Regions from separate parts of the Homo sapiens genome. Here all the other regions are linked to region 2. The links come from fine-mapping of genetic effects on gene expression. A gene starts in region 2. Each other region holds a variant in brackets. All regions are shown on one strand. Distances are from middle to middle. Region 1 has its middle 6.9 kb from the start of MIR4786. Region 2 holds the start of NDUFA10 (NADH:ubiquinone oxidoreductase subunit A10). Region 3 overlaps NDUFA10 (NADH:ubiquinone oxidoreductase subunit A10).

Region 1 (8,178 bases), 76 kb before region 2:
CAGGAGGGTGGAAGACACTGCGCTGAGAATGGGATCCGCTTGCGGACAGGAAGCAGCCCAGAGCCTCACATAATGAGCTGCACCCCCAGACCAGGACAGGAGAGGAGGGCCCCAGGGATTCCGTTCTGAACAGGGAGCCCAGGCTTCCAGGGCAGACGTGTCCCTTGCAGGTTTCCAGAGAGAGGGGCCACACCTTGGCAGCTGTGTGTGTTCGGCCCCTGCTCCAGTGACTTCTCGAAGTCGAGGAAGGATGGCTGCACGCTCCTCCCACTTGCTCCTCCTCAGCCCCAGCTGGGGCTCCGTCACCCTCCTAGGTGGCACCTGGCCACTCAAGCCACTCAAATCCCAGGTGGTCATGAGCCCTGCACTCCATACCACAGCTCCGGCCCCAGCCCCAGCAGACGGGGAGATGGGTGCAGTGATGAGCTGGGAGGGTTTCCGAAGGGTAGTGTGTTACTAGGGGAAGACGTTGTCCCTTGCCACCCTCTGTGGAATTAGCTCGTTAACCCGCATGCTCTGTATGAGGTGCTGGGCCTGCAAACCCCTCAGTGATGCCTCCGGGGCCCTCCCCGCAGGCACTGCGCTCAGAGCCACGGAGTGAGTCTCAAGCCCAAGGGCTCACTGCAATCACAAACACCCCCACACCGTTCAGGTATCCAGGTCAACACTCACGGACGCTACACCTTCTCCAGCCCAGCTCCAGCTCATCTCGATGAATCCCTTTGTTGTCCACATTAAAGCTTTGAGTTCAACGGCTCCTGACGCTGGTGCAGGACCTCCCTGAAGGAGGCAGGACCGAGGTTTTGTCAGGCACGCCTGACATGGATGTGTGCCCAGGTGTGCTAAATGCACTCACTCCCTTTGGTCAGATTTTGGGGAAAGTCAGAGTGAGGCTCCTGCAGGCAGAGAGAAGGCTACAAGCACAAGCTCTGGGGCCAGAGGGCCCCATGCTGGAAATGCCTGCTGTGTGTCTTTGATGTCCTGCCTAACTTCTCTGAACCTCAGGCCGCCTTTGGTGAAATGAGGATAAGGCCACGGCCTCACAGGGTTGGCGGAAGGAGGGAACCCTGCGTGAAGTGCCAGGGCAGTGTCCAGGAGACGGATGCCCAGCCCATGGTGGTGGGTGCTGTGCCTCCCATGGGACTCCTCAGTCCTGAAGCCCGGTGCTCAGCAGGTAGTGTGGGTGGGATCCTGGGTAAGGAGCTGGGATCCAGGCTGCAGTGCAGCCCCTTCCTCATGGGTACAGAATCCCTGGAGGCCTAGGCCAGGCCATCTGGGGCCGTCCCGCCTGCTCACACTGCTTAGACCAAGGCCCTGGACATTATCTGGCAGCAGGCATCCGAGCCTGGGAATACCAAGAAGTCATACCAGGACAGCCCTATACCAATGCAGGTGCCTAAGGCCTACATCCCACACCAACTCCCAGAGCCCCCAGGGACAGAGCTCCTGAGGCCCACAGAGGAAAATGGCTCAGTGACTGTCCTGTGTGCCTGCCTTCTGCACGCCCCGCTGGGCTTCCTGCAGCCACAGCCAAATGCTCGGCCTAAGGAAGAAGCTGGACAAAGACCGGGAGGCAGCTGCTACCAGATACAGACAGGGACAGTCCCTGCCTCACCAGGGCCCAGTAAGCCCCGCCCTCTCTGCGCACCAGACACAGACAGGGACGGCTCCTGACTCTCTGAGGCCCAGAGCAAGCCCCGCCCTCCCCGCCGAGCCCCAGGCCTCCAGGCCCAGGGTCCTGTGAGGGTCCTCCCGGGGCTCCTCTCACACACCGGCCTTCCTGCTGCCGTGAGCTCCTCCATCCACTGAAGGCCTCAAAGACTATGCAACAGGCCAGCCCAGCTCTTGTTGCCAGATGGCAAGAGGGATGAGGGCTCCAGGAAGCACGGGGTGGTGCCTCAACACGCCCACGGCAGCGACATAACCTGTGGCCCCCAGTGCAAGATGAAAACGGGAGGCTCTGGTCCAAAACTTGTTCAGACTTTCAGGACGGCCACAGCTGAACATTAAATCAAGTGTGGGCCCTTCTTGAGCGTGGGCACTGGGTGAACATGGAGGTCACATGTGCATAGGTGGCCCTGCCCTTCAAGCTGGTCTTCCGAGGCCAAGTTAGCCAATTTACATCCTCTGGTGGTGAGGTGGAGGAGGTGAGGTCGGGGGACAAGCTCTGTCGTCACTACAGCTGTTTGAGCAAAAGTCCAGAGGTTCAGTTAACGGCAGCAAGGTTCAGGATTGTGTACAATTCTTAGGGAAATAGCAGCTCATTTCCACCAACACTTAAGAGCTAGAACCTCCTGGGCCCTGCCCACACGTCCGTCCCTCTTCCCAGCCTCAGCCACGCATTCCAGAGACGAAGCCAGGCTGTGCTCCGGACAATGGCCTCCAGGCTGCTCTTCTCCCTTTGGCCCCTCAAGGCCCTGTTCAGAGGCTCCCTGTGGTCTCATTCAAGGCTGCTCTGCAGCTGGGTCCTGAGCCCCCAGGGGACAGAAAGTAACCGACATCTCCACAGCCTCCGCTCCATGAGTGGCGACGGAAAAGTAACAGGCGTTCAAAACATGCACTCACTTGACGTTGTTCAGGGTCTACAGCCCACTGTCCATTTTGCAGCTGTAAGTGGAGTCGCTGGAAAACCCAATGTAAAAAGCAGCAGGCCTGCCCGAGCAAAGCTGCCAAGGCTAAAAGCCCCAGCCATCTTGAAAGCACAAATACACGTCGGTGGGACCCGGATCCTGACTCGAGCCTCCAGCGTTCCAAATACAAGGACAAACTAGGGATTGCAAAGGTGGCTCAGATGCCAGCCTGACGACGCAACTCAGTATGTCCCTTCATCTTCCACAAATCCAGGCCTCCAGTGTCTGGGACAGAAAAAACTAGAGCCAGCCGAGGTGGCCCTCCCTCCTTGGGGACTTCACCAAGCCTCGAGCCATCCTGGCCTAGGCAGGAGCCAGCAGAGGCCTGTGTATTTATTTTGCAGGGAACAGTTCACACAAAGATAAAGCGTGCAGGAGTCCAGAAGAGAAGGCTCTCTACTTCAAATGCAGTGTCTCAGAAGTCACAGGGCACCCCCTTCTGCCCCTGGAGCCCCCAACCCTTCCTTGCTCCCCTGGAGCCCCCAACCCCAAGCTTCCTGCCTTGCAGGCTTTCTCATTGCTTTAACCCCACGAATGCAATGGACACATGTCCCTCTTTGGGACGGACGTATGAGAGCTCATTATGACCAGGATAGTGTCGGGATTTTAAGGTAAAATCAAAGCAAACCAACTGCTGATTGAGCGACTTCTTCCAACACTGATACGGATAGGAGCTTGGGGCAGGAATGAGCACCAGCATTTGTGTCTGAGGAGTGAGATGCACGGCTCGGAGGGCGAAGCGAGTTAGCAATTGTACAGATCAGCTTTAGACATCCAACCCGACTGGACTACAGCTGCCCAGGTATTTGGTCAAACAAGATTTTTGGGGTGTATCTGTGGGGGATGAGATCAGCATGTGACCTGGTGGATTCGGGAAGGCAGGCGGCACTCCCCAGCGTGGGCAGGCATCCTCCAGTCCACTGGGGGTCTGGAAAGAACAGAAAGGTGGTGGAAGAAAGAATTCCCACTCTCTGCCTGTTTTTTGTTTTTTGCTTTTGTTTGTTTGTTTTTTAGAGACAAGGTCTTCTCTGTTGCTCAGGCTGGAGTGCAAACTCCTGGGCTCAAGCAATCCTCCCACCTCAGCCTCCCACATAGCTGGGACAACAGGCGCGTGCCACCACACTTTTACTTTTTGAAGAGACAAGGCCTCATCTATGTTGCCCGGGCTGGTCTCCAACTCAGCCTCAAGCGATCCTCCCACCTCAGCCTCCCAAAGCACTCGGATTACAGGCGCGAGCCACCATACCTGACACTGGCCTGTTGAGGTGGGACATTGGTCTTCCCTTGGACTGGAACTTGCACCACTGGCTCTCCTGGGTCTCCAGCTTGCAGACAGCAGATCTTGGGGCTTCTGAGCCTCCAGAATCCTTGTAACTGTCTCCATATCTGTTCATCCTGTGGGTCCTGGTCTCAGGAGAGCCCTGACTGAGCCTGAACCTGGACTCACCACATTCCATCTGGGAGACTGGGGAGGTCCCACCCTAGAGCCTATTTTCTTACGTACATAATGGGAGAAAAATCAGGCCGTCCCCACCTGCAGCCAAGCTTGCTGTGAGAATCTAGGGAGGGGGCACACCTCAGAGTGGGCTCACGAAGTGGTGGCAGAGATTTAGAAAGGTTTCCAGTCCTTATAGCCCCTCCGCCCCATGCTGTG[T/G]GGCTTTGGTCCACCCTCAGCAGTACAGGCTGGCCCTGTTATAAAGAAGCTGAGATGATGCATCTCCTACAGCCAGACGGCTGCCCACCACTCACAGCTTCCTCAGGGATCCCTCAGGCCCCCGAGTCCTTGAGCGGGCAAGAGGTCTCCTGTGGGCATGCCTTGGCCCAAGCAGGAGGCTCAGGGCTCCCGACCCACCACCTTCTTTTTCAGACGGCTCCAGTCCACCAAGCTGCCCCCTCGGGGCATGACCTTTGGAAATCTGAGGAACGGTTCCTCCTTGCTCCCCGAAGACTCTGTTTTTAGGCATCTGAAGTGTAGATGTAAACATTGACCTTTCCCACTTGTGTTTAGACCTGGTGTCCTCGGTGTAAGGACCCCACACACGGATGAGAGCTCATTATGACCAGGATAGCGTCAGGATTTTAAGGTAAAATCAAAGCAAACCAACTGCTGATTGAGCGGCTTCTTCCAACACTGGTACGGATAGGAGCTTGGGGCGGTGTAAGGGCCTGTGCATGTCACATGGCCACCACGTGCAGGTGAGTGGCAGCCGCACGCCTGTCTGTCCCCGTGGTCGGCTGTGCAGACCCCTGCTCGTGCCTGCAGCTTCATCCCAGTGTCACAGAAACACCACACAGCTCCATTCTGTGATTCAAGTAGGTGCCTGTCTAGTTGTGTGACACTGTCCAACAATTACGGGGCAATTGTTCCCACTGCTCCCATGACTGCTTCAAAGAGGTTTCAAGTCAGCGTCCCACTGGCCACCTGCTGGCCAGGGCTTCCAGTACGTTCCGCTTCAGCCCCTCGTTCCTTTGTCAGGTAGTTGCTGAGCCTGGAAGGAGTGCAGAAGGGCCCTGCTTCAGAGGATTATTGGCTTTTGAAGTGAAAAACCCTAAAACAATGCTGACACTTCCCGTTTCAGTCTCATCTCTGAGTCTGGATTTTCACTGGGGCTCTGGGGCCCTTTCCAGCAAACATCTGACCACAAGACATCAGAAGGAGAGGCTACTATTGAGACAGGGAACCCTGCAGCGATGGGACCCGGGGTGCCCACAGGGCGTGCGGGAGGGGCCTCGGGAGGGCCACACGCTCCTGTGCTGCTGCCCTGGAGACAGGGACAATGGCTGCGTCAGCCACCCGTGGGTTACAGAGGACAGCAGGGGGAGAGACGCAGACATTGATGACTGAGTCGTCGAAGGTGGTTGAGATTGGGAAGAAAGTGGGGCCAGGGTCTAACGAGGCCGTTTCTCTTGTGTTCTCAGGCCTCACTTCTGAGCCTCCATAAAAGAAAAAATGCCCGTGCTGGGCAGCCGTGTCCCAGGGATGCCTGGTCAGGGTCCTCCTCTCGCCACACCCTCCCTGGGTCCCCTCAGCACCCAGTACAGGATGTGCCGGACACTGAGAAGCAGCTATGATGGAGGGGCGGCAGGCTTGGTCACAGCCGGGCGTGGAGAGTCAGGCATCTTTAAAAAACAGGGTCTAGGAAGACTCTAATGGCAAGTAAAAGAAAATGTATATAACTCTAAAGCTATCTTCCTTGTTCATTCCTAAAATTCCTAAATTTTCAGAAGTGATCATAAAGTATTTGTGTAACTAAAAAGGGGAAACAAGCCAGAGGGGTTCCCAGGCCTGGTCCCAACGGCACACCGAGGCCTCCGGCCTGGCCATGCCCTGGGCAGCGGGAAGGACAGTGGGACCCAGGAACACGAGGGCCCTGCTGACGCCTGCCCAGGCTCCTGCCTGGCTCTGTCCCTCTCGAGACCTGAGATGGTGCATGCCCTTTGGTCTCTTTCCCTCGGTAGGTGCTGTGGCATGGGTCCTGGGGTGTGGGCCGGCAGGGGCCAAAGGCTGCTGCCTGAAGTCCCACACCCACTAGAGGTCTGCACAGGAGCCGCCTGTGAGCCCACGGGATGAACCAGCAACACATGTGCCACACCTGCTCGCAGAGGGCAGACAGCCTGGCTGCGTCCTGGAATGGGGGCTTGGTGGGGCAGACCTGCAAGCCCAGGGAGAGGAAAGGCTGCATGAAGGACTGGGTGGTGAGGAGGGGGGCGCAGGGAGGGGGCTGGCAGGGTGGGGGCCAAAGCACAAAGGGCTCTGAAGGCAGAGTGGGGAGGGGGGCCCAGGAGAAAGGAGCAGACCTCCTGGGCAGAGATGAGGATGCTGTTGTCTGTGGAAGGTGAAGAGTTCAGGAGGCCAGCACTGTGCAGCCCGCAGCAAACCCACCCCCACTGGCCGGCAGGGCCCCAACTGTGCGGCTTGAGGCTTTCCTTGGCAGCCGGTGGGCACTCACCTGCAGGCCCCATCACAAGATCTGTAGGTGGGAAGAGCTTCTGAGCACCAACAGCTTCCAGGTACCCCTGTAGGGGTTTTTCTGGGTTTTTTGAACTTCCACGATGGACAAAGCAGCCTCCCCTCTCTTCCTCCCAGAGGCCTCCCTCCCCTGGATGGGCAACCCTGTGCCAGACATGGCTATGGAGACCACCTGTCACCACACATGGGACAGCCTATGTCCACCTCTCCCCACGGTGTGCACCACATGGGGACAGGGATGGGCCTGGGCCTGGGCCAGGGCCCCGGAGGGGTGCAGCCAGCCCACGGCAGACGCGAGGCTCTGCTGACCAAGCTGGCAAGGCAGGGCTGCTCACAGCTGCCAGAAAACGCAAGGCACAGCTGCCGACGCCAGCCCCGCTGCTCCACGCCTTCTCTGAGGCAGAAGGCCCATCTCTGTGGTGGGTGAGACCCTCCTCTCCAGCCACGTGGGAGGTAAGAAGAAGCTGAAGGGCCACCCAGAGCAGGGCCTGTGGCTGCCAGTCTCCACAGGGCCTTCTTGTCGGCCCAAGGTGGGGACTGTGGTGCACAGAACAGGGCCCCAAGGACAGCCGCATCCTGATCCCCAGCTCCTGGGACATGGGACCTCGGGTGGCAAAGGGGCTGAGCAAATGGGGTTGAAGATCTTGATGGGGGGTTTCCTGGACTGAGTGGCCCAATGTCATCACAGGGGTTCTTGCACAAGGGAGGCAGCAGGGGCCAGCAGAGAGGAGAGGTGACTAGAGGAGGGGTCACAAGACCATATACGCAGGCAGCCTCTAGAAGCTGGGAAGGCCAGGAAACCAGGAAAGCTGGGAAGGCCAGGAGCCTGCAGGAGGGACCAGCCCTGCTGACACCTTGATTGGAGGCCTCCTGGCCTCCAGAACTTAGGATAATAGATCTGTGCTGCTTTAGCCGCAAAGTGCAAGGCAGCTGCTTACCGCAGCCCTAGGAAACTGCTCCGCGTTGATCTGGGCTCAGCCCCAGGGAGGGGTGCCTGCCGGGTGACCTGAGCATGGTGGTGCATGAGGCAATCAGAAACAGGAGGGTTTCTCACCCTGCAGGAGGAGCACTCGGTGTCTTCTCCGAACCTCCTACAGCTCTGGACACTCACAGTTTGCTCTCAAGTCCCCCACCTTAGTTCCACTCCCCTTCCACCACCTCCTGTGCCCTCTTAGGTGGGAAAACGCAACAGGCACCGCGAACGTAAGTAGCGGCTTGCCCCAACCACAGGCAGCCAGGCAGAGGCTTGTCCTTAAAAGGCTGGAGGCTTCAAGGCTGTGACCATGTGGAGACAGCACAGCCAACACAGGCTCCTTCAGGAACTGCAAACTTAAAATAGACTCCGCTTCCAAACCCACACACTGGCGTCTCTCCAGGAAGAGCGAGGTGGAGGACGCCCCCGCCGCCTCAGGGCTGTGACAGTGGGGAGTGGGTTCCACCTGCTGGGCTGGGCTAGGCTGAGTGACCGACCGCCTCGGGGCTGTGAAAGTGGGTTCCCCCTGCCGGGACCGCTGAGTGACCACCCCAGGACTGTGAGAGTGGGTTCCCCCTGACGGTCAGGCTGTGACTGCCTCAGGG
Region 2 (8,178 bases):
CCTGAAAGGACTGCTCCCTGTAACCACAGGAGCCCCCTCTAGCGGGCAGCTGCTGTCATGCAGGTGCTACAGAAAGGTACAATGGACACTCAGCTGCACCAGGAGTCAGGAAGGGGCTCTAACCTTGGCTTTGGGACCCAGCTATGTGGCATCTGCTCACTCAGGAGTACACCCATCTGTGAGTGAGTACCATCCTCGGCTCTATTTCAGAGGCTGTCACAAAGTTCAAACACGACAGTTTATGTGGAAGTGCCCTGCTTACACTGCCCACATAAAATTCCAATTCAAATTGACAACCAGCATGGATTTTCACAAATTTTCCAAACATAAAAGATTAAAAACAGCTTTTTCTTGTTTCGTTTTATAAAACAGCTTTTTCAATAAACAAAAATGTGAAATACCCACCTTAGGCCCAATTATTAAATATTTAATATTATTTAATATTAATATTGAAGAAAAACCAGTGAAATAAGCAACCATATATCTGAGAAAAAGGTATCATTCTGTGTAACATAAAATCATACCTAGTTTCTCTGCTATTTCTTTTGCAAGTTTGCCTTTTCCAGTACATATATTGCCATCTACAGTTATCACTCTGCTGCGTTCTGTCAGTCTTTTGCTTGCTTTATCCCCAAGTAGGAAATGCCACATTCCATAGCGCAGTTTGCACTGCACACTGCTATGAATTCCTCTCTGAAAAACACAAAATCACACAGCAGCACATTGTGACCACTCTGGTTCCTGTAGGCATTAGTAACTATTAGGTAAAAATACCAAGAAACCTCTTAGTGATAAAAATGCCAACATCTACATCTTTATTGCCTATTAATTTGTTTAATTATCTGTCTATCCCCCACCACTCTGTCCATGTAAGTTTCGTTAAAGGCAGATATACTGTCTGTTTGTTCACTGCTAAATCCTCAGGCCCTGGAACAATGCCTGAAATTTTTATTAAATATGTTTACTATGTTCAATAAAAATTGGAGGGAGGGAGGGAGGGGTGGATGGATGGATGGATGGACGGACAGACGGGAGGAAGAAAGACAGGGATGGAGGGAAGCTCAGGAGTGAAGGGAAGGGAATAAAAAACATTTCTCTAATCCAAGCTTCTGTCCCCATGTCCTGACCTCGTTACCCCACTGCCTATTAAACAGCTCCACCTAGATGTCCTGAAGGCACCTGAAGGTAACAGAGCTAAGGTGAAATGCAACATCCATATCCTAGCCCCCAAGTCTGCTTTCCCTCACAGCAAGGAATATCCACTACCTAACAAGCAAAAGAGAGCAAATTTGAGTGTCGTCTTTGATACCTTTCTCCTTCCTTCAACTGCAGAATTACACACAAAATCCTAACTGTTCAGACTCTCTGGACACTGCATCGCCTCCCTATGCCATGTGCTGACTCTGTCGGCACCCTCACACCTCTCATCTACAAGGCAAAGACCTGCTTCAATGCCTGTCTCCAGCAGCCCAATTTACTCTCCACACTAAAGTGGGAACATTCCTTCCAAAAAAAGAAAAGAAACATAACCAAAAGTAAAACAAACTGAAGAAGTTCAACAGATATGATGGGGTAATAACCTTACTATATACAGAAATTGTACAGAACAATAAGAAAACAAAGAATAAAAACACACAGCTTATTTTAAAATTATAAAATATAGCCAAAAACCACATGAAAAAGTGGTCAACCTTGCTACAAAAAAACAAAAGACTATTAACAAGGAAACATTAGTTTTTCATGTGTCAAAATGAGAAATAATTTAAAAAATGATTACAGAGTTAGGACAAGACAATGAGTACCATCCTAAACTGCTAATGGTAATGAAACCTAGAGGACGCTGGGTCTACAGCATTAGGAATCCATTCAAAGAGTATATACATAAGATTGACCTATAAGGATGCTCAATGAAGTATGATGTAACACCAAAAATGCAAATAGAAACCCTTAAATGTCCAACAACGGAGGAATAGTTAAACAAAATTAAGGCATATCCATATTATGGAATACTAAGTACTCAGAAAAACACAAAAATATTAAAATACTTTATAGTGAAATTTAAATAAAACAGGAGAATATGAAATATCAAGATATTTTTCGATCTTGATTTGATAACTGAAGAGTAAGGAAGAAACAAGTTACAAAACAAGGCAAAGCAGACAACCCAATTTAAAAATGGGCAAAAGATGTAAACACCTCTCGCAAATGAAATTAACGCAGATAGCAAATAAGTATATGAAAAGATGAACACTGTATATCATGAGATATTCCAAAGTTGAAACAAGATACCACTACGCAGCTATCAGAATGGATAGCAATCCAAAGTAACCGACAGCCCCGCATGCTGGCGAGCACGCAGAGCAACAAGGAGAGCCTTCACTTCTGGTGGGAGTCAAATGGCACAGTCACTCTGGAAGATGGCTTGGCAGCTTCTTAGAAAACTAGTCTTACTACATGAGTAATCGCTCTTCCAGGTATTACCCAAATGATATAAAAATGTATTTCCAAAAAGAAATCTGCATGTACACGATTACAGCAGCTTTATTCATAATTGCCAAAAACTTGAAGCAACCAAGATGCCCTTCAATTGCTGAATGAATTGAAGTACATCCATGCAATGAGATATTACTCAGTGATTAAAAAGAAATGAGTTACCAAGCCACGAAGACATAAGTGAATCTTACATAGATATTTCCAAGTATTCAAGGCGTCTGAAAAGGCAATATATTGTATGATTCTAATTATATGACATTCCAGAAAAGGCAACTATGGAAATGTTAATGAGATCTGTGGTTGTCAGGGGTTGGAGAAAAAGAAGGGTTTAATAGGTAAAGCAGAGGGGAATTTTTTAAGGCAGTGAAGCTACTCTGTACGAACCTATAATGGTGGAGACATGCTATTACACACGTGTCAAAACCTATAGAACCTTATAGCACAAAGAAAAAATCCATAGAACCTTATAGCACAAAGAATGCGCTCAATGTATGCACATTTTAAAAAACGCATTAGGTAGAAGGATCCCAAGATGTAAGGCAGAATGTGACAAAGCAATCCAACTGTGTTACAAATGTATGAAACGATTTCACTGAAGAAGGTGGGGGCAAAATGCTAAGAAATGAGAGTAGTCAGTCAGAGTAAAGGCAAAAGGAAGCGGACACAAGCACTGAACTCCGTGTCTGCTCAACATGGCATCACCCAAGCACCCAGCAGGGCCCGACCTTTAAACGGCTCTTGACAGGGCTGCTACGTGAATTATCTAATGACAAGCGCGTGTGCCCCCGGCCTGCCACCTGCACACGGGCCTCCCGCATCAGGGCAGCCTCGGGGCCCTGATCACCTCCGCGCTCCAGCGTTTTGCTTAAAGCTGAGATAAAATGGCCTGGAGAAGCTCGTGGCCCCCTGAGGTCTGTCCACGACCAAAGACCAAACAATTCCGGAGGCAGGAGGGGTCCCCCAAACCCACCCGGAGAGCGACCTGGGAGCCGCCGCCAGAGGCCGGGGGAGATGTGGAACTGCTCCCCACCCCGCCACCCCGCCACCCTGCCACCCCGCCACCCTGCCACCCCGCCGCCCGCTCACCACGCGCTGGGCGCCCGCCGCCACGACCCGGGCGGACGCGGACGTCGCTGCCAGCTTCAGGAGCCGCAAGGCCATGGCTACCCGGTCAGCTCAGGATCAAGGACCCAAGGGGACGCGGTCGCGACGGGGCCCTCTCTCGCGGCCGGCGCGCTGCCGTGACGTCACGGCCGGGGTGCCCGCGGCGCCTGTCGGGAACCTTCCAGGGGGCGGGGCCGCGCCGAGGCCCTCGGGGGCTTCCGCGGAGACAGCCAGTGCGCTGCCAGGGTCCTGCGGGTTGGGGCGAGGGCCGAGAGGTGGGAGTTGGAGGTGAACGTGGGGGCAGCATGCTGGCTGCCCGGCCCCTGCCTGGGTTCTGAGTTGCTGCGGTGTCGCGGGAGCTGAGGCCGCCCAGGGCGTGGAGCGACTTCTGCGTCTCGTCCCAGGGTCCTGTGCTCCCCGCAGAATCCCCCAGGCGCGGTGTGGACGTCAAAGCGACCTCCTAGAGAACATTCCTAGCTCTCAGAACGTTCTCGCTGGGGAGGGAAAGTGGAAAAAGAGGGGGCGAGGAGCGGAGGGACGGGGTGGGACCCCTGTCGCGGGGCGCCTGTCAGGGAGAGGGACCTGGCAAGGCCGGCCTGGGTCGCCTCCGGAGCTGAAGGCTAAGTGGTCTCATCCAGGGGACCTGCTGTGAACACATTGAATAGCATAGAAAACAAAAGCACACGCTCCAAGTCCATCTCTTTTTTTTTTTTTTTTTTTTTTTTTTTTTTTTTTTTTTTTTGAGGCAGAGTCCCGCTCTGTCGCCCAGGCTGGAGTGCGGTGGCGCCATCGCGCTCACTGCAAGCTCCGCCTCCCTGGTTCACGCCATTCTCCTGCCTCAGCCTCCCGAGTAGCTGGGACTACAGGCGCCCGCCGCCACACCCGGCTAATTTTTTGTATTTTTAGTAGAGACGGGGTTTCACCATGTTAGCCAGGATGGTCTCGATCTCCTGACCTCGTGATCCACCCGCCTCGGCCTCCCAAAGTGCTAGGATTACAGGCGTGAGCCACCGCGCCGGCAAGTCCATCTCTTAAAATGTGCTCCCGTCAGGACCTGGGCTCTGGGCTCCACGAAGGAGCCTTGCATGTGAGGTTTCCTTCCAAGTATGCCTGCTGTTGGGAAGGGTTTTTATAATCTTTTGTGTTCCCCAGGCTTTTTGTTCTTAACCCCTTAAATATTCTTTAACTTTGTTTTCAACTTTTCAGAAATGATCATGCGATTGTAAAACAGTGGGAATGCAGCTGTGTAAACTACGGCCGGTTCTATGGATGTTTCTATAATTGAAGAATTGCTTTTTGTCAAAAATACGGATTCCCGGTCCCCAACGCAGGAGGGTCTGGTTTTTAGATCCTGGAGGGCACCTGAAATCCATTTAACAAGCTTTAGGGTTCATGTCTGCTGTTTTTTGCCTTGTTTCCTTTGCATTTTTTTTTTTTTTTTTTTTTTGTGCCTTCCAATGGATACAGTACATTTTTTTAGAATTCCATCTTGATTTACTGATAATGTCTTGGGAAATATCATTATGTATAGTTTTCGTAGTGGTTCCTCTAGGTATCACAGCACGCAGACGTAACTTCTCACAACCTGTTTGCGTGGATGTTTTGTTGTACCTGAGCGAGTTAGAAAAACACCACCTTTGAGACGAATTAAGAGTCCTTTATTAGCTGGCGACCGAGAGACGGCTAACGCTCAAAATTCTCTCAGCCCCGAGGAAGGGGCTTGATTAACTTTTATACCTTGGTTTAGGAAGGGGGGGGGGTCTAGTTAAAACAATTTTACAGAAGTAAAGTAGTCAAAAAGTTAAAAGGGTAAATGGTTACAGGAAAGTAAACAGTTCAAGGTGCAGGGGCTTTAAGACTATTACAAGATGATAGACCCGGGGCTTTGGGCGTTATCAATCGGACAAATTCCTGGGAACTGCGGATGTAGCTTGCCACAGTATCTTACCAGTTAATTGCATTCTTGGATGTGGTGGGAGTCAGCCTGCACAAGTTAAGTCCTTGAGAAAGGGGCTGCCAGTGAAAGAGCCAAGATGGAGTCTGTCTGGCTCTCTTAGCTAAGGGAGAGTCAATTCAGGTGGAAACAGGGCTAGGTGATTAAAGGAAAAGGGAGAGTCTGAAAACAGTTAGTAAAAACCAGGTTGGGCATTACAGTTTTACTGGTTCAAGGGAAGTATTACTATATACTTCCCCGTCCCTCCGCTTCTCGCCCCCCTTTTTCCGTTTTCCCTCCCCAGCTAGAACGTTCTGAGAGCTAGGAATGTTCTCTAGGAGGTCGCTTTGACGTCCACACTATATTAGACAGCATGAAAATAACTTCAGACCCCAATAGACCAATATCTCTCGTGAACTTAGACACAAAAATCCTTAACGAAATGTTAGCAAATTGAATCCAACACTATATGAAATGAATCATACACCACAACCCAAGGTGGTTTATTCAGAAGATGCAAGGCTAATCTGGTATTTGAAAATCAACCAATGTAATACACCTTACCAGCAGGTGAAAGACGAAATCTATGACCAGATTGCCTGATGCAGTTTTCTGCATCACTTGACAAAATTAAATACTCATTTATGATAAAAACAAAAACTGCTCTCAGCAAATAAGGACTAAAGGGGAGCTGCTTCAGCTTGATAAAGCACATGCGTGAAAACTCTGCATCATTGTACTTAATCATGAAAGACTGAATGCTTGCCTTCTAAGGAGGAAACAAGGCAAGGATATCTGCTCTGCCCACTCTTATTCAACAGAGCACTGGAAGTTCTAGTAATAGGCCATGCAGTATGGCAAAAAATAAAAAATGAAATTCATACAGATCAGAAAGGAAGAAATAAAACTGTCTATTTTTAGTTGACATGACTGTTCACATAGAAAACCCAAAGGAATCTACAAAAACCTCCTGGAACTAATGAGTGAGCGCAGCAAGTTTGCAGGCTGCAATGTCAACATATGAAAATCAGCTGCATCCTATGTACTAACAACAAACAGAAGGAAACTGAAATAAAAGATGGAATACCATTTACAGTTGCTTCAAAGAAAATATAATATTTAGGTCTAAATCCAGCAAAACACACACAGAATCTGCATATTAAAAAGTACAAAACACTGATTTAAAGAATGAAGACCTCAATAATTGGAGGGGTTTACTATGTTCATGGATTGAAAGACTCAACAGAGTAATGAAGTCAGTTCTTCCCAAATTGATTTTTAGGTTTAATGGAATTTCTAGCAAAATCTCAGCGAGGTTCTCTTGTAGACATTGACAGGCTTACTATAAAATTTATATAAAAATATAAAGGCTGTACAATAGCCACAATAATTTTGAAGCAGAAGAATAAAGTGGGAGGAGTCACTCTTCCAGTGTTAAGATTTACTACATAATCATATAAATCAAGACTGTGTTGTATGGATGGAGGGTGTGATATTGATAGATACGTAGATCAATTTAACAGAACAGAGGATCCAGAAATAAGCCAGCACAAATATTCTCAACTGACGCAGTAGTGCACCACACAATGACATTTGGTGAATGATGAACTGAACGGCACATAAGATGGTGGTCCCATAAGATTATGACATTATATTTTGACTTACCTTATCTGTGTTTAGATGCATAAATTATGGATGAGCACAGTGGCTCACACCTGCTGGGACAGGTGGGACAGGGTTTCACCCAGCATAATGTATTATGTATATATAATACACAATACAGTATATGCATTATCCCAGTATATGTATTATCCCAGTATGAATGTATTATGCATTGTGTATTATACAGTATAAATGTATTATTTATTATGAATATTGGATAGCAATGAGAATGCATGAATTATTGTTACATGCAAAAACATCAAGGATTCACTCAAGCAACACGGTGAATGAAAGAAGCTGAACATAACAGGGCACATACTTTATGTGTAAGCCCCTCAGAAACACCAATGCTAGCATCTGGTTTTGGAAGTCAGGACAGTGCTTTTTGTGGAGAAGGGTTAATGACTGGGAGAGGGCGTGAAGGCAGCTTCTAGTTCTTGATCTGGGAGCTGGTTCCATGAGCACAGTCCTTTTGTGAAAACATATGCAGACGAAGGCTTGTTACTTGTGCACAGTTGTGTAGGTTTGTTAAATTTCACTTAGTTCTGTAGGTTTGTTAAATTTAACTTAAAAATTAATTTAAAGAGCACAAAGTGCCACATACAATGTTGTTTCATCACTACAGATTTTACTCTAGGACATTTAGTTGTCTTAGTGTGAAGTTTGACCCAAGCCCAAGGCCTTTTTCAAGGCGTCCTTAAATTCCTTGTTCCTCAGGCAGTAAATCAAAGGGTTAATTATTGGCGTGACAACAGTGTACACGGCAGAGATGAGCTTGTTGGAGCTCTGGGAATCAATGGCTTGGGGCCGGACATACATGAAAAGCAAGGCTGTATAGAAGACGGTGACCACGGTGAGGTGAGAGGCGCAGGTAGAGAAGGCTCTCCAGCAGCCGGTGGCCGAGGGGATGCGCAGGACAGCCAGGGTGATGTGCCAATATGACAGTATGGTGGCCAGGAGCGGAAACACCAGGATGATGAAGGCCA
Region 3 (8,178 bases), 50 kb before region 2:
AGCTGGTGGCAGGCTGAAAGTGGAGCCCCGATCTTTTAATGATCAAGTCCAGGATCTTTTTCCCACTACAGCATGTAAATATTCGTTGAATTAAATTGTAACTTTTAGTGTGCTAACTCTTAAAAATAACACAATAAGCTCTTTCCTCAATCACATACTACTTATACGAGGTTTTACTGAATTCCCCTCATTCCCTCCAATTTTCCATTTATCTGTCAATCAGCATATATATAGTAAAGGTATGTTGCTCAAGGTCTCAGCTATGAGATTTCTTGGGTGTCTGTTAGGTTATGGTCCACAATCCACTCTACCCAGATAAAGGTGACTCCAATCTTTCTGCAGGTCCTTTCGTATGTAACTCAAAGCACTTCTCTTGGGGGATGTTTATATCCTAGTAGTCACCTCAGGGACATTCAAGGATGCTCAGTTTCCCAGCTGAAAGAGTTTTCATGAAGGATGTGTGTGTGTGTGTGTGTGTGTGTGTGTGTGTACATGTATACATATATTTGTAAATATATTGATAAATATTATACATATAAATAAATATGTGTATATTCCAGCAACAAACCCTTTATTGTATTACTGTAAATATATAAATTAAACAAAAAAACGATTGAGTGAGGGCCTGTGTACCGGGTGGGCTTCACTCTGCTGGGGCAAGCAATGGGTTATGCCAAGCATGACTGGCTCCCCTCTCTCTAGATGCACTAAGGAGCTTCAAAATACTGCAAAGTTCTGGGGTGATTTGGAAATTCCAGTTTCCAACTCCTATTTTCCATTATAACATATAAATGCTAATCAATTCTGCTTGGAGTTTTTCATTAATTTTAAAGAAGAGCACTATAGATATTAAAGACACTTCTCTGATACACAATTTCCCTTAATTTCCATTACTGTAGAACACAAATCGAATGTAACAAAATTGGCATAAATTTTCAAAAAATCTTTTAACAGTCAACTTTCAAAAACCATATTTTTATTTTGAAAATGTGTGTTCTATTTTTTAACACATAAAACTATAGCTTCCTACAAATATATCATTATTTAGCTGTCATATTTGTTGCAATGAGTATTAACAATAGTTCAAATGTCTTAATCCTCCTTAACTCTTATTAGCTGTGAATAATAGAAAAGCTCCTAACCTAAGTGCTTGTTTTAAACCTGAAAATGGTATGCTTTCTAAAAATTCTAAAGTAAATACAATCATATGTAACACACTGTAAAGTCAGGGCACTTGATTTTCCAGATTGCATGTAAGACAGTATCTTACCACTTTCCATCAGTAGACAGGCAGATACCACATACCACAGCAATCACATACAAACCAATGGACCTGGTAAAGATCACCTTTTATGCTCATCATCTTCTTCGAGGGACACATGCTGATAATTTTCCATACACAGAGATGTAAATAACTCGGGCATACAGATTAACGCCGAGTTTCTATGATTAATTTCCACAGTGCAGGTGGCAGGGCACAAAGTGGAGAGAACACTGAAGGCATTACGCATTTACTTTCAAACTTAATTAAGTAACTTATAAACTGAAAATTTGTATTTTAACACAACTAGATACCAAACTGAGTTCCAAGTAAGGTCTGAATGTCATGAGGAACCTAAAGCAGTCACGTCTGGCCTTCCGTCTCCCGCATGTTTAGGTAAACTGATCCTAGTGCCTTTCTGTAAGGTGAATTTCATAAAGGCAAGAACATACAGTATTAACATATTAAAGTTAATAAAAACATCTCTGTTTTAAAAAATGGTAAGGGAGAACTCAATACTGAAAATGAAAACAACTTGAGATAGTAAAAGAAACAAAAATAGCAGGCGAGAAAACAGAAGATTCTGTTGTCCTAGCAACTATCTTGGACACGATCAGCTTCAAGGAGGGAACGATCAGCTTCAAGGAGGGAACGATCAGCTTCAAGGAGGGAGCACAGTATCTTAACAGCATCTGGCTTCCTTCCATTGAAGAGACTGAACTGGTAAAATAGAAACCAAATCACAGTTTGTCTAATCCAAAGAAGGGCTGTACAGAAATAAAAAGTGACCTGATACAATGTTTAAAACGTGACTTTAAAAAATCAGCAGCCTGTCCTGCACACATTCAGTATTTTCATGAACTTACACAGGGTCAATTCCGGGCACAAAATGAGGAGGGTCGCTAAGGAAAAACATGTTCATATATATTGCTCAGACCCCAGGTACACATGCCCCACTGAAAATGCTGCTTTACTTATTTATTTTTATTTAATTTTAGTTTTTTTGAGATGGAGTCTCACTCTGTTGCCCAGGCTAGAACACAGTGGCAATTCTGGCCCACTGCAACCCCCGCCTCCTGGATTCAAGTGATTCTCATGCCTCAGCCTCCCGAGTAGGTGGGATTACAGGTGCTCGCCACCACGCCTGGCTAATTCTTGTGTTTTTTAGGAAGAGACAGGGTTTCTCCATGTTGGCCAGGCTGATCTCCAACTCCTGACCTCAAGTCATCCGCCCGCCTCAACCTCCCAAAGTGCTGGGATTACAGGCGTGAGCCACTGCACCCAATGAAAACGCTGTTTTAGATGAAAACTTGGATTCCTGAGGCATCAGTGCCCTAGCGCTGGGTGTCGCCTAGAGTGTGGACAGGTGCCTGAGAGCCATCAGGACACTAGCCAGACAAGTGACAAGACAAACACTCCAAGGTCACAGGATCAACAAAACCAAAAATCATAAACCCTTCTATTCATATGAAAATCTAAGATCCACTCTGCTGTGAAAAGGTCTTTCTTTACTCGTCTGTGTACCCATGTCACCAGCATGTTCATCAAATGAGAGTGTGGATGTCCCCTCCAAATCTCATGCTGAGATGTAACTCACAGTGTCAGAGGTGGGGCCTGGTGGGAAGTGTTTGGATCATGCGGGCTGATCCCTCATGAATGGCTTGGGCCATCTCCTTGGTGATGAGTAGGCTCTTACTCTGAGTTCACACAAGACCTGGTCATTTAAAAATATGTGACACTCTACCACCAAAGATCTGGTCATTTAAAAATACGTGACACTCCGCCACCAAAGAGCTGGTCATTTAAAAATATGTGACACTCTGCCACCAAAGATCTGGTCATTTAAAAATATGTGACACTCTGCCACCAAAGATCTGGTCATTTAAAAATATGTGACACTCTGCCACCAAAGAGCTGGTCATTTAAAACTATGTGACACTCTACCACCAAAGAGCTGGTCATTTAAAAATATGTGACACTCCGCCACCAAAGAGCTGGTCATTTAAAAACATGTGACACTCCTCCGCCACCAAAGAGCTGGTCATTTAAAAACATGTGACACTCCTCCGCCACCAAAGAGCTGGTCATTTAAAAATATGTGACAGACACTCCGCCACCAAAGATCTGGTCATTTAAAAATATGTGACACTCCGCCACCAAAGATCTGGTCATTTAAAAATATGTGACACTCTGCCACCAAAGATCTGGTCATTTAAAAATATGTGACACTCTGCTGCCCCATTCTCTTGCTCCTGCCTTATTAGGATGTACCTGCTTCCCCTTTACCGTCTACCATGATTGTAAGTTTCCTGAGGCCTCCCCAGAAGCAGAAGTTGCTATGCTTCCTGTACAGCCTGCAGAACCGTGAGCCAATAAAACCCTCTTAAATAAATTATCCAGTCTCAGACATTTATTTATAGCAATGCGAGAACAGCCTAATACAACCCCCACACCTTAGTCTGTGCATGGTGCTCACCCCAGGGGCCCTGCAAGAAGCAGGGAAATGGGAAGCAGCATGGCCGCCCGGCCACACTTGCCCAAATGTGAGTCCTGCCCTCCCAGAAGCTGCAGGACCTCAGAAAGCCACTGTGTCAAACTGCTCATTTGCAAATGGGAATAAGAATAATAGTGTCTTCTTGTGGCAACAGCATAGTGCCCAGCACACAGAAGGTGCTCGGGGTGACCTGGTATTGTTACCACTGCGATCAGCAGCAGAAGTGGTGCCCTCTTCAGCCTCAGTCTCTCTGCTCTTTCCCCTTCTTGTCAGGTCCTATTCAGCCCATGACACTCCAGCCCCCAGCCCATAATCCTTCCTTCCACCAGCCTCTCCCCACCTCGCAGGCCATGGCTGCCAGATTAATCCTAAGTGCCTCCTGGATCAAGCGTCCACACTTCCTCCCTATTGCCAGCCACCCTCCTGGATCCCAGACCGTCGGTTCTGTATCTCTCGCTGTTCCCAACCAAAGCCACAGCACCAGCCAGGAAAATGTCATCTTAACCATCACTCCACATCATCCATTTAGTAGTCCTACCTTGAGCTCTGGGTCTCTGTTTTAAAATTTATCTGA[T/C]AGGGTTTCTAATAGTCAAGAAGTTACTCTAAATAAAGCCCATAAATCCTCAGTATCTATGAATCTTAAATTCTGGTTCAAATTCCAACATCTCTGACCACCTTTCTTAATCATCCCATCAACGCTGATGAGAAGTTCTTCACACTGCAATTCCAGGCTTGGTTACATAACAATGTGCAATGCCCTCTGACTCTGCTATATTTGAACTCCTCGGGTTAATCTCATGCCTGCTGTAACCCCCACGTGGCTTAGGATGGAAAGTAAGCTCCACGGTCCACCCTGAGACCCTGTGCGATCTCGCCCCACTCGCCACCCTCCCCACCTGTTCTGTCTCCTTTCCCTTCACATCATGGCCCTTGCCGGCCATGCCCTGCAGCCTCCGGCCTTCACAGCCATCCTCCTTCTCCCTCAACTGCCCCCCCCAAGACTCTACTTGGCAAACTCATACCCATCCTGTGAGGTGCGAGTCTTGAGACCCCAGACACAGCAACCTACCGCACATCCCTACCCTCTCACGGGTCCCCACAGCCTCTGGGATTCCATCGCATCATCTGCGCACGTGTCTCTGCCGAGTCTCCAGGGTGTGGAAACTGGGTTGTGTCTCCAGCCCTGGTGCAGTGTCTGGCACTGAGTGCGGTGAAATGGGGGCCAGACGAATGCACAGGGAAGGTGGAGCTCCCGCCGACAGGCTGAACAGCCTTGAGTGTACTGAAGAGTGACAAGGAGGAGCCACAGCAGAAGGCGAGGCGACTCCACCATGCGGAGCCAGAAACTATGAGCTGTGGCAGAGGCTGAGAGCGCTCAGAGTGGCCCTAGGAAGGAGTTCCAGTAAAAAGACATGATTCTCTCAGTAAGAGCAGCTCCCAGAACACTGGCAACTTCTGGGGCACCACTGATTTAGACAACTGCAACCCAAACAGCAGCTGTGCACCTCTTAGAATTACACAAGGGCAAGCAAAGCAAAAATTACAGAACCCCAAGAAGAAAAACGAGTTGGCTGGACCCCTCCCAGACTCAGGTCTTGGTGCCTTTGACTCCATCCAGCCACAGGAAGAGCTGGGAAACCTTCCCCCGCCAAGCAGATCTCCCTAAACTCAGACTGGAAGCCAGGTTCAGGGATAAGGAAACACAGACAAGAGAGACAGCAAGTCTAGAATGGGCAACTGGACCTTCTTCCTAACAGTAACGAAGGCCACTGGACCCCAACTGCCGTCTTCTCGTGTTGTTCAAAGTCACCCATCCATTGGCAGGTGCAGGTGGGCGAGCACAGGCACCTGGGATCCGGAGCCCCATGAGCTGCCACTGCTCCTGCCAGCGTCCCGCCACTGTCCCTGAGTATGGCGTGCTAGGCCCTCTAACTCGCCCCTGACACTGCTCCTGTTTCTGGAGTCCCCATTTAAGGGTGCAGTTGATGGGAAAGAGCAGGCTTCCCAGACACCTAGAAGAGGCAGCCAGGCCCTTCACGCAGGTGAGAGGATTCACAGGGACCTGAACCACTGTGTGGAGATCTGACTCCACGAGTGCTCCACAGCTGGACGACCGTGCCCCTTAAAGGCCAGTCAAGACATCTCCAAAACCAATCTGTTCCAGAGAGACTCATTAGCCATCACATCCAGGATGTTCAACCATGTATATTTATAATGTTAAGCACACAAACTGCTGCTTTCACGCTAGGAGAACGTAAATATGACACATCAAATGGCTGTAATCTACTGTCTGGAACTGGCCCTGTGATGTGAAGAGCACCAGTGGATTTTAATCAAGGAATGAGATGCTTCAATGACAATGGCCAACGTGGTCACTGGGCCTGGTCAACCACCCAGCATGGGTCAGCTGGCTTTCTCAGCTACGCTCGCAGCACCCTGGATGTAGGTTCTGTGCCTCCACTCCACACATGGCCAATCCAACAGAGTGTCTCCCCATGGGAGGAAAGAGCCCTCACCCACCCCTCCAGCCTCCCCTCAGCAGACTAGGTTGGGGTCCTATGAAACAAACAGTGATCTGGCCTGGCCACGCCTGCTTGGTGAACTGGGATCTCTGATGAGCTGAGAGGCCTCCCTGCCTCTGGGATCCCTGCTTGGTGAACTGGGATCTCTGAGGAGCCAAGAGGCCCCCCTGCCTCTGGGATCCCTGCTCCATCAACGGTCCCATTCCTCTCTTGCATCTTTTCCCTCTTTCCACAAGCACTTACCCTTTTGCCTATAAACACACTGAGAATGCCTTAGCCCTTAAAAACAAGACAAAATAACAAGCTATAGAAGATGGAATCTCTAATTCCCACCAGTCTCCTGACACTTCTCTCAAGGTTCACCTATGACCTGGTCATCAACGCAGTATCCTGGGCATGGTCAACCTTCACCACCCCTGACCTTCCTGCGGCCTCTGACAGACACTGAAGCTCCTCTACAGGCTCCTCTGCTGGCGCCCAGGGCCCACACAGTCTGGCCTGCCTCCTAATACTCTGGCGAGCTTGGTCCTCTTCACCAGCTCTTCTTCCTTTCAGCAGAAAGCTCTTCTGACCAACCCCGATTGGATCACTCACAAGCCAGCCTACACAGGACACCAAGTGGCAGGACCTGCTCCCACTGGCCCACAGGCACTTCTGTCCCTCCCACCAAGTGGTATGAGTCAGTGGTCTGTTTCCCAGCAGCGACGCCAGTTGTACTTGTCATTGCAATTGCAAAATTTAATTAAATGTTATGAAAACTACGCGTCTGAAAAGGAAGAGCTGCTGTTCTGTTAAAACTAGGCTGAAACACTTTGGAACCATTTGATGAAGGTGAGTCGCTAAAATAAGGTCTATTGAAATAGGTGTGGGCGAACCACCTGTAGGTGATTTGGGGAAGAATTCTGTCTTCCCACCGTTTGTATGCTTTTTAGAAACCTAAAAAAGGAGTTTCTGCTTATAAAAGAACTTGAGCTCTAATAAAAAAGTATCTTAAAAGACATGGAGCTCTTTTCATGTGAAAGTTAGAATAACGGCTTTGTTTCAATATATAAGCTCCAAACAGATTTCAGAAATTAGCTCAGACACAGGGTGGGCGAGCCTCCCCAGCGTCACACCACTCCCTGAGAAGTGTGCTCCTGTGTAACCCTTTCTGGGCTCATCCATCCATCAGTAAATTAAATTAAACATAAGGGTCAGGAAAAGATCCATGAGGAAGTATGCCTGGGATTCCTAAATTAAAGCCTTTACACCAAAGTTCCTTTGTTACAAACGGCAAATTCCTATCTTAGAACCCCACCCCACAGCCCACCCCACCCAGCTGCCACTACCTGTCTCTATTGTGCTTTATAGTTAGACCCCAGTGCTGGCTGAACTGGCTCCACCCCTCTCCTCCAGTCACACACACAACTCTGCAGGAGAGGCAACACAGCAGAGGCCCAGGGCTCCACCGTCCGGTGAGGAAAGGCCACCACCAGGCCCTCAGCAGCCCGCTCCCCACCCTGCACCTCTTCCCTGACTCCCTCTGCTGGAATCCTTCAGCAATAGTCTGCTTAATTTTGAAAACCTAAAAAGCAAGAAGCAACTTGGCTGGGCAAGGAGGGGCAACAATGCCCCTGTTAAGTGGGGGCTCTCGGGAAAAGAGACAGTGCCTACTCTCAGCGCCCCCGCCCATAGCACCAGCACTCTCACCTGCACCACCAGGACCCTCCCTGACCGCCTTGGCCCTCTGCCTTTGCCCCCACAGTTGATACTCGACGTGGCAAGCAGAGCAACCCTTTAAACCTGAGACCCAGATGATGCCACTCTCTGGCGCACCAACGCCACCACCTCACCAGGAGTACCGCTGAACTGAGGTCCCCGTGGCAGCTGCGGACCCCGGCTGACCTTGGCCTGCTGCCTTT

What was found. PIP is the estimated chance that this variant, and not a neighbour inherited with it, causes the effect.
Region 1: its variant is fine-mapped to the expression of NDUFA10 in tibial nerve (GTEx, PIP 0.99).
Region 3: its variant is fine-mapped to the expression of NDUFA10 in monocytes (TOPMed, PIP 0.96).

The regions. Positions count from the first base shown.
Region 1 is chr2:239,945,900-239,954,077 of GRCh38, forward strand. It overlaps a transcript of NDUFA10 not described here. Among named protein-coding and RNA genes, the nearest start is that of MIR4786, 6.9 kb to the left of the region's middle. RefSeq lists enhancers at 1-758, 5,257-5,756. The variant T/G (reference allele first, on the strand shown) is at 4,285.
Region 2 is chr2:240,021,648-240,029,825 of GRCh38, forward strand. It overlaps NDUFA10 (NADH:ubiquinone oxidoreductase subunit A10), which reads right to left and starts at 3,695. Exons shown (of 10, transcript NM_004544.4): 1 at 3,580-3,695; 2 at 525-693. The coding sequence starts at 3,654. OR6B2 (olfactory receptor family 6 subfamily B member 2) reads right to left here. Exons shown (of 1, transcript NM_001005853.1): 1 at 7,844-8,178. The coding sequence ends at 7,844. RefSeq lists a silencer at 3,622-3,881 and an enhancer at 3,690-4,519.
Region 3 is chr2:239,971,681-239,979,858 of GRCh38, forward strand. All of the region lies in intron 9 of NDUFA10 (NADH:ubiquinone oxidoreductase subunit A10), which reads right to left. Among named protein-coding and RNA genes, the nearest start is that of MIR4786, 33 kb to the left of the region's middle. The variant T/C (reference allele first, on the strand shown) is at 4,330.